Regions from separate parts of the Homo sapiens genome. Here region 1 is linked to region 2. The links come from fine-mapping of genetic effects on gene expression. Tissue or cell type: whole blood. Region 2 holds a variant in brackets; the other region holds the start of a gene. All regions are shown on one strand. Distances are from middle to middle.

Region 1 (4,130 bases), 230 kb after region 2:
CTCAAAGTTTCAGACTTTCAGTTATCAAATTTTTATGCAATAACTGAAAAGTTAGTAAAGTCAAATTTATTTGTAATTCACTCATTCATTGAGAAGTTACAGTAATTCCAACGGACTGCTCTGAAATTTGCCTTTGAAACTTTTATTTAAAAAGGTTTTCTAAAGAATGGATGTTAAGTGTTCTCATAAAAAAATGCTAACTCAAGGCCAGGCGCGGTGGCTCACGCATGTAATCCCAGCACTTCGGGAGGCCCAGGCGGGCGGATCACCTGAGGTCGGGAGTTCCAGACCAGCCTGACCAACATGGAGAAACCCCGTCTCTACTAAAAATACAAAATTAGCCGGGCGTGGTGGCGCATGCCTGTAATCCCAGCTAGTCGGGAGGCTGAGGCAGGAGAATCGCTTGAACCCGAGGGTGGGAGGTGGGGGCGGAGGTTGCAGTGAGCCGAGATCACGCCATTGCCTTCCAGCCTGGGCAACAAGAGCGAAACTCTGTCTCAAAAAAGAAAAAAAAAATGCTAACTCAGCCGGCGCGGTGAGTCACGCCTGTAATCCCAGCACTTTGGGGGGCCCAGGCGAGCGCATCACCTGAGGTCAGGAATTCGAGACCAGCCTGGCCAACATGGCGAAATCCCCTTTCTACTAAAAATTAGCTGGGCGTGGTGGCACGCGCCCGTCATCCCAGCTACTCGGGAGGCTGAGACAGGAGAATCTCTTGAACCTGAGAAGCAGAAATTCCAGTGAGCCGAGATCATGCCACTGCACTCTAGCCTGGGTGACAGAGCAAGACTCTCAAAAAAAAAGGTAACTCTGTGAGGTAATGTAACAATGTATACATTACTTCAAACGATCATGTTGTATACACAATAAATGCAGACAATAAACAATTTTTAAAAAGATATTTTTCTAAGGAAATAGAAATTATCGAAATAGGTAATCTACTCAATTAACCTAAATTGTAAAACATTATAAAACACAGAGAACTGTTATAATTCATTCTCATCTATTCATTTAACTTAGGTTAGCTTAGTTTTCAATCACTACATATTCTTAAACGGAGTGAAATTAGTCACATTCCATTTATCTTCCAAATTTATCAACGTTTATTAAGATTTATTTCAAGAATAATTTGTACAGGGCCTAATTAAATTATGAACCAAGAAAGTTAGTCTTAAATGACCCCTCAATCCCTTTTCCCTGCACTTTGCTCTCTTAATCTCCTCGCCCATCAAAACTGCTTCAAGAAAAAGTTCTGATAAATTTCTTGTACTAAGGGTAAGTAAGAATGGTAAATTCCCGTGTTAAGTTCCCGCCCTTTTTGGAACGAGGCATTTTGGAACAGAAAGTGTTTTCTGGTGCCCTGAAGTCACACGATAAACCTACTTGCCTATGGGTAATCCTGTGAAGTGAATAAAGCGTCCAGGACATGCATTTAAATACGCAATTTATTTTAGTTATATAAATGGCGTTGGTTTAGGTGCAGGGTACAAACTTATTTAGAAATCATCGATTTGTTAACTGCGTTTGGCATGGGAATTTGGAAAGAGTTCGCCCGGGTTAAGACACCAATGGATAAAACACTTGTCAATCCAGGAGAAAAGGCATCTCAAGAATGGAAAGACTTGCTGGCCCAGGCTCCCTCGGGGAGCTCTAGGTGTAGAAAATGCGCGCTCTCCGTTACTTCTCGGTTACTTTGCCCAGCACAAAGGACGACGCGAATACCAACAGACTGGACGAGTCGGTGACTACAGTTTGCATTAAGAGGCGGCGCCTTTTGGGTTTCGGAGGGTTCCACTGGAACCCACGAGGGTCAGGAACACCGACGCGCGGATTCCGCCCACCAGACAGCCTGGGGAAGCGAGCCTGAAGGCGCGGCGCAGCTAGAGAGAAGAACCTCGGCAGACATGCCGCCCAGAGGCAGCTAAGGGGCCCGTGGGCAGGGCCTGCGCTCCGGCTGCGATGCAGGCCGGCTAGAGGCCGGCGCCGAGGACCCGGCGCGCGGCGGCCCCGCCCCCTCGGCTCCCCTCGCCCCGCCCCCTAGGCCCGCCCCTTCCCGGGCCGCGCACCCGCGCGCCCCGCCCGCGGGCGGAAGCTGGAGCGAGGCTGAACGCCTGACGTCAAGGCGACATCGCCAAACCTCGCCCAGATTCAGGCGTGTAAACCAGCCGGAGCGGCGCGGCAGCGGCAGGACCGCCGTGGCGCCTAGAGTAGCGACCCGGGGGGAGCGCGGGGCGACGCTGGCTGCAGGGACCCGGTGACAGCGTGAGAGGTTCGCAGAGTGAGTGCGTGGCCGCTGAGGGAAGCCGCGGCGGCGGCCGCGCGGGGCCGGGCGCCGGCTGAGGGGAGCGGGTGGGGTGCGGCGAGGCGCGGGCCGGGCGCGGCGGTCAGGGGCCCCGGCGGCGGCAGCCCCTCGGCGCGCGGCAGGTGGCGCGAGGGCCAGGCGCCGGGCCCGCGAGCGCGCTGCCTTGCGGGCCGGCGAGGAGGAGCAGCCGCCGCCGCCGCGGGAGAACAGCGCGCTTTGCGGAAGGGGTCAAATGTCTGAAATATGGCGGAGGAAGTGAGAGCCCGAGGACCCCCCCACCCGCCCGCTCTCTTCAGCCCGCGTCCGCCGCAGCTTCTCCCGCCGCCCTCCTTTCCCCGCCGGCTCCCCCGAAGACTCGCTCCCCGCCCCGAGCCCCCTCGCTTGTCGCCTGGGTTCCCTCCGTGGTATGGGTGGAAGTTAGAACGGAAACCAGAAAGTTGTCCTTTGCGAAGACCTAGCTTCTCCCAGCCCCGAGCTAGGGCGAGGAGCCTTCGGGGGAAACCACTCCCAGGCGCCCCGCGGGCTTGAGCCTGACAGCGAAAAAGTTTGCCTGAAACGGGGCTTGCTTGCTCCATTTGTTGCGGGAAGTGGCAGGAGGAAGGCAGCGGAGAGAGCCCCACTTAGTCTGGCAGCAGCCACCGTGTAGAGAAAAACTGTTAAAGGGGCCTTTCCCTTCGTCAGCAAGAGGAAATCTCTTTCTCTTAGAGGGAGAGAAAATCCAGGAAGTTTGTCCTCTTCTCTTTTTCGCCATCTCGAGGTGTCTAATCCTAAAACTATCAGCGCCATGAATTTTATTTAAAACTACGCCCAGTGAACCGGGCTCTCCGGATTTTTCTTCTGAAAAACACTGATGTCTTTTGGAGAAAAGATCATTTTTGCAAGTTAAAGCAGATGGTTTCCTTCCCCTTCGCTTTCCCCCCTCTCCCACTCTCTTTAATAGTTTAGAAAAACATTTTGGCCCTGTAACTTCTGATTGGTATGAATAGAAGCAGTTCTGTGTTGCAGTAAGGGGAAATCACATTTTTACGGGGTAGAAAGTTGACACTAAATGAAGATTGTGATTTTAGTATTTTAAAATTAATTCCGTCTAATTGGATTTTGGTTTTGCAGGCAGCATCTCATATATGTCGAGTACTTAACAATTTAAAGCTCTGACTTGTAAATTTATTTTTCAGCTCTCTTTTTTCGTAATTAGAATACTGTTTGGACTTGCTCAACAAGACCTTATCTTAACAAAAAGTAACTTATAGAAAAGGGAGACATTCATTTAACTTCAAGCCCATATTATTCTTAAAAGCTGACTCTTGAAATAGTATTTATTGAGTCATAGTGGAGTCATGGGACTTTTTAAGGGCCGGAAGGGACTATTTAGATCATCCAGTCCCACCCTGTCATTTTATGGAGGAGGAAACTGAGGCCTAGATAAGATAACCAGTTAGTGGGTCCACTGACCTTTAGGACAGTAGTCTATCCGTAAGAGACAACATGGAGAAAGAAATACAACGTTTTTATAGTGAATTATCATCTTACAAAGAATATTCTTCCCATATCGCACTTTTAAAAAGTGGGTACCTTAGTCAAATAGGAGAAAAAACCACTTGAGTAGTTTCATCCTCAGGTTTTAGGTGAGGAAACTGATACTCAGATTAAATAACTTTAAGCACACAGAGCCTGAATGATAGTCTTATTTGAGCTCATCTGTGCTTTTAATGTGTACTACGTTAGGTGTTTTCACTTGCATTTCCTTTAGTCTTATTTGAGCTCATCTGTGCTTTTAATGTGTACTACGTTAGGTGTTTTCACTTGCATTTCCTTGTTTGACGTTGAC
Region 2 (4,264 bases):
TAATCCAAAGAATGCCATCAAGTAAGATGTGGAGCACACGATGGCCAAAGAACAGAAATACCTGCCTCTCCCTAATGATGTGAAGATCTCAAGTGATACTTAACATATTGGGGTGCTCAGAGTTCAGGGTCACCCTAGGCAGGTGGCAGATCTCATATGTACTTGCAGTTGTCTCAGTTTTGTTACATTTCATCCCTACTCCCACCATTCCCACAGTCTGTATGACTGCATATATATAATTTCCCTCAGGTGCTAGATGGGGGCTTGGTACCAAGTAAATTATGACATGGGACCCCAAGGAATCTCTGACACAGGAGAGACACACAATGACAACTTATTTTTCACAGGTTACAAAAATAAAAATATCAGGTGTCATGAATACAAGGCATTGTCTCATGAATTAATAATTTAGTTTCCTAAAAAAGATGGATAGGCGAAAGAAGGACAGGATGGGAAATTAGTGCTTGTTTTAATCTGCTTTGGAGCTGCCAAGGAAAACCAGTTGTCTTCTCCGTTTTTCTGTGCTTCCTGGAAATCATGCTGGAAGCAACCAGATTTGAGGCGCAGCATGAAACATCTGTCCTGTTTTGGCTTCTCATTGAGATGTTCATTCAGCTTTTGCATACAGCACCTTGCTGCCTTGAGACAAAATTTTAAAAACAAAAAAGCATTGCCAGGCTTTTTAAGCTATTGTGCAGGGTTGCTATTAGGAACTCACTGCACTTAGACTCTCCAGCCCACCCAGGAATATAGGTCTGACCCTTAAGGATAGTAAATAAGGGAGTGAAATCCAAGAAAGGCTGACACTCCCTGTGCAGTTATTTTTCAACCCAGAGGCTGCTTCTGCATATGATATCGCTTATGTAACTTTTCTTTGCAAGGACTCCTCTGGTGCCCCAATCTAGCCTCCACACCCATCCCTCCCCATATCATCAGCACAATGACATTTTTGCTGCTCCACCCAGCTGCGAATTTGCCAACAGTTTAAGGATGTGGACATTGAGTAAACAAAGACACAAAATTGAAGTTGGCTTTTGTGCAACTAGCTTTTAGGAGTTGCAGTTCTGTTCTTTCAGGTTTAAAGTTTCAGTGCAGTAGAATAAGACTGCCCAAACAATATTGCAAAGCTGCTTAGGAATTTCCATCACTAAAAATAGTATTATGTTACTTTGGGATAAAAGATTTTTAATTTATAGTGTAGCTCCCATGTAAGGATATGTATATTAACCTAGAACAACCTTGCTAGTTTCCATACGCCAGACTTAAAAATAAATTTATGATTAAAACCTTTTTAAGAATTCCAACAATACTGAGTGACCATCAATTCTTTAGAAAATGGGAACTAATTAATGGAAATTTTCTTCAAAGAATCTGACCTATTAAACATGATATTAAATATTCATCTATTTTAAAAGCTGCAAATGTCAATGAAAAAAATAAAGCTGTCAAATGCTAGGAGCATTTCATTAAGAAAGCAGCTTCAAACATTGATGAGAGTTTTATAAAGTTAGGAACTCTCAAGCTTTACCTCCTAGTGAAGAAGTTACTAATATTGTCTTTATTATAATCAAAATGCCAAAAGAGCAGGAAAACAGCAGTATGGGGCCCTGAATTGAAGTCCCTCTTTTTCCATGTTTCTACTAGCCCAGCCCTTTTGTAAATAAAACCTTTATACAACTAAAGCAGCACTGACTTCAATGGGAAGTTATGATATCAGTGCTACAGTGAAATGGATTGCTACAAA[C/A]AGAATAAGAGAGGAATAGATTGGATAATCAACACATATAGCAACTCAAAAGGATCGTTTTAGTGATTTCTTTTAATCTTCTCTACTACTAAGTATTTCACATAAGGATGCTTTTGGCTGCAAGTAACAGAATATCCAACTAACAGTGGCATTAAAAAAAGGGGTTCTGGTTTTCTATTGCTATAATATATAACAAACCAAAATTTAGTGGCTTAAAATAACATTTATTTTGTTCCTAGTCTGCAATTTGGGAAGGGCTTGGTGGGTGGCAGCTTGTCTGCTCCACTTGGCACCAGCTAGGGCACTTGAAGACTGGGGCCAGAGTCATCTGAAGGCTGCTTCACTCTCATGTTTGACAGTTCTTGCTGAGAAGACTCAGAGAGCTAGAGGCTGGTACAGCTGGGGCTCCTCAGGCATCTCGATTTCTGTGTGTTCTCCCACATGAGTTCTTCAGCATGGCAGCTTCAATGTAGACTGACTTCTAACATGTCAGCTCAAAGCTCCCAAGGCACATGTCAGAGAGAAGAAAAAGGCAGAAACCGCATCACTTGTGAACCTAGCATGGAGAGTCATGCAGTGTCACATCTACTGAATTCTACTAGTTAGAATCAAGTGGGTAAGGCTGGCCTATATTCAAGGGAGGGTGAATTAGACTTTGCTGGGAGGAGTGTCAAAGAATTTGTGGCCTTGTATTAAACCTACCACAAAGGGATTTATTTTTCATGTATGATGTCTAAAGGGAAGCAGTACTGTATAATATGGGGCTCCATGATCTAATAAAAACCAAGGGTTCATCTGTTCATCTATAATTCTGCTCTACCATTTTTAGATTGGCATATTGTCTCAAAGTTGCAAGCTGACTGCTATAGATCCAGACATTGTAGCCATGTTCAAGACCAAGAGGGGTGGAAAGAATAGTGCCTGCAGTTCTGGCCTCTTTTATTAGGAAATCAAAAGCCGTTCCCAAAACCCACCTCAGCAGAATTCTGCTTATGCCACATTGGCCAGAACTGTTACAAGGCCACCCCTTGCTTCAAGGGAGGTTAGAGCAGTGAATATTCAGCTTCTCCTTTCTCTACTGTAGAGGTCAGCGAGGATGAAGAGAGCCAGAAATGGGCATTGGGTCAGTCAAGCCATGCTTCTGACCTGCAAAGCCTCCATATCAGACCCAAAAATTCACAAGTAAGTAAGTAAGAGCTTCAAAGAACTTCTCTCCCTCAGCCAAGGTTAACTATAAAATGACCCAAATATGCTTAACAGACCAAAAAAAAAATTGGCTAATGAATGGAACTATTTACAACTGTATTTTTGCAAATAGAATCAAAAGCTAGATATTGAATTAAATGAATTGTTTCTACAGTTTAAACAGGAAGCAGAATGGGTTTCCCACAGAGCCATTTGCCGGCAAGATAGGAGGGACAAGGAAGAGGAGAGACCACTGACTTGTGATAAAATGTGAAAGCTGCCCTGCAGATTACCTTGGCTTCAGAGGCCTGGGGCCTAAAAATAATTTGGGGGCAGGGCAAAGAGGAACTCTTCACTTGTAAACCTAACCCAAATTCTATATCTTATTTTATAGAACATTCCTTCTTTTAACCTTGTTACTCACTAGTGAATGGAAACAGGAAAAACATTGTGAGTTGATGGATTTTATCTAACCCATCTGCAACGATTATTCAAATGTAAGCTTTAAAGTTTTATAACATTTAGCTAAAGAAGAATCAAAACTCTTTTCATTGCCCCGTGTAAGCACAAACACTCTCCTCGCCCTGCCAATTTGCCAGTCTACTGTCTCATGCTATGGTCTCATACAAGGATAAAAAAAATCACACCACAGCAGATATTTTTATAGACCCTTCATTCATACAAGCCTTGGCATATGACCGCAACAATAGCTAAAACTGAAAAATGAGACAACTGGATTTACTGACTGATAGTGTCTAGAACTCTCTCCCAGGTAATTTAATAGATGTACGTGAAAATGTGTGCTTTAAGGAGGACGCTGAATGTGAAGAAAGAATGCAACCACAGTGAGAGCTCCAGTACAATCCCAGGCTACAACTTCCAATGTCTGGTTCATCCTCAGAGAAAAAGGAATGAGGAAAGGAAATATTTTCCTTTAAATTGAAAGAACTCTGACATAAGGAAATTAAATAATTGATCCAAAGTGATGTTGCTCCTATTAAACAGAAAAAAAAGCACCAAGGCCTTTGCAAGCACTCCCATTAACAGTTTAATTTAGAATAGAAAGTAATGCAGGTCTTTATTCTAAACAATGGCCAACTTTACCTAACACGAAATAGACTCTTCTTAAACAAAACTCATAAAACATATACTATGGGAGTTACCAACCATTTTCTGAATTATTTATAAGCTAATGCTCTGCTTTCAATGTTTCTATCAGCTGCAAAATTTAATTAAGAAGCAAAGAATGGGCTTATAGAGATCATGACCCTACGTATTTCTTACTCATATTTCAAATTATAATCATGTCATGATGAAGTTTGATCCTCGTGGAGT

The links. PIP is the estimated chance that this variant, and not a neighbour inherited with it, causes the effect.
Region 1: it holds the start of RAP1B, and the variant in region 2 is fine-mapped to the expression of RAP1B in whole blood (TOPMed, PIP above 0.99).

What each region holds. Positions count from the first base shown.
Region 1 is chr12:68,608,775-68,612,904 of GRCh38, forward strand. It overlaps RAP1B (RAP1B, member of RAS oncogene family), which reads left to right and starts at 2,125. Exons shown (of 8, transcript NM_001010942.3): 1 at 2,125-2,269. RefSeq lists a silencer at 1,982-2,441.
Region 2 is chr12:68,378,488-68,382,751 of GRCh38, forward strand. No RefSeq gene overlaps it. Among named protein-coding and RNA genes, the nearest start is that of MDM1, 48 kb to the left of the region's middle. The variant C/A (reference allele first, on the strand shown) is at 1,745.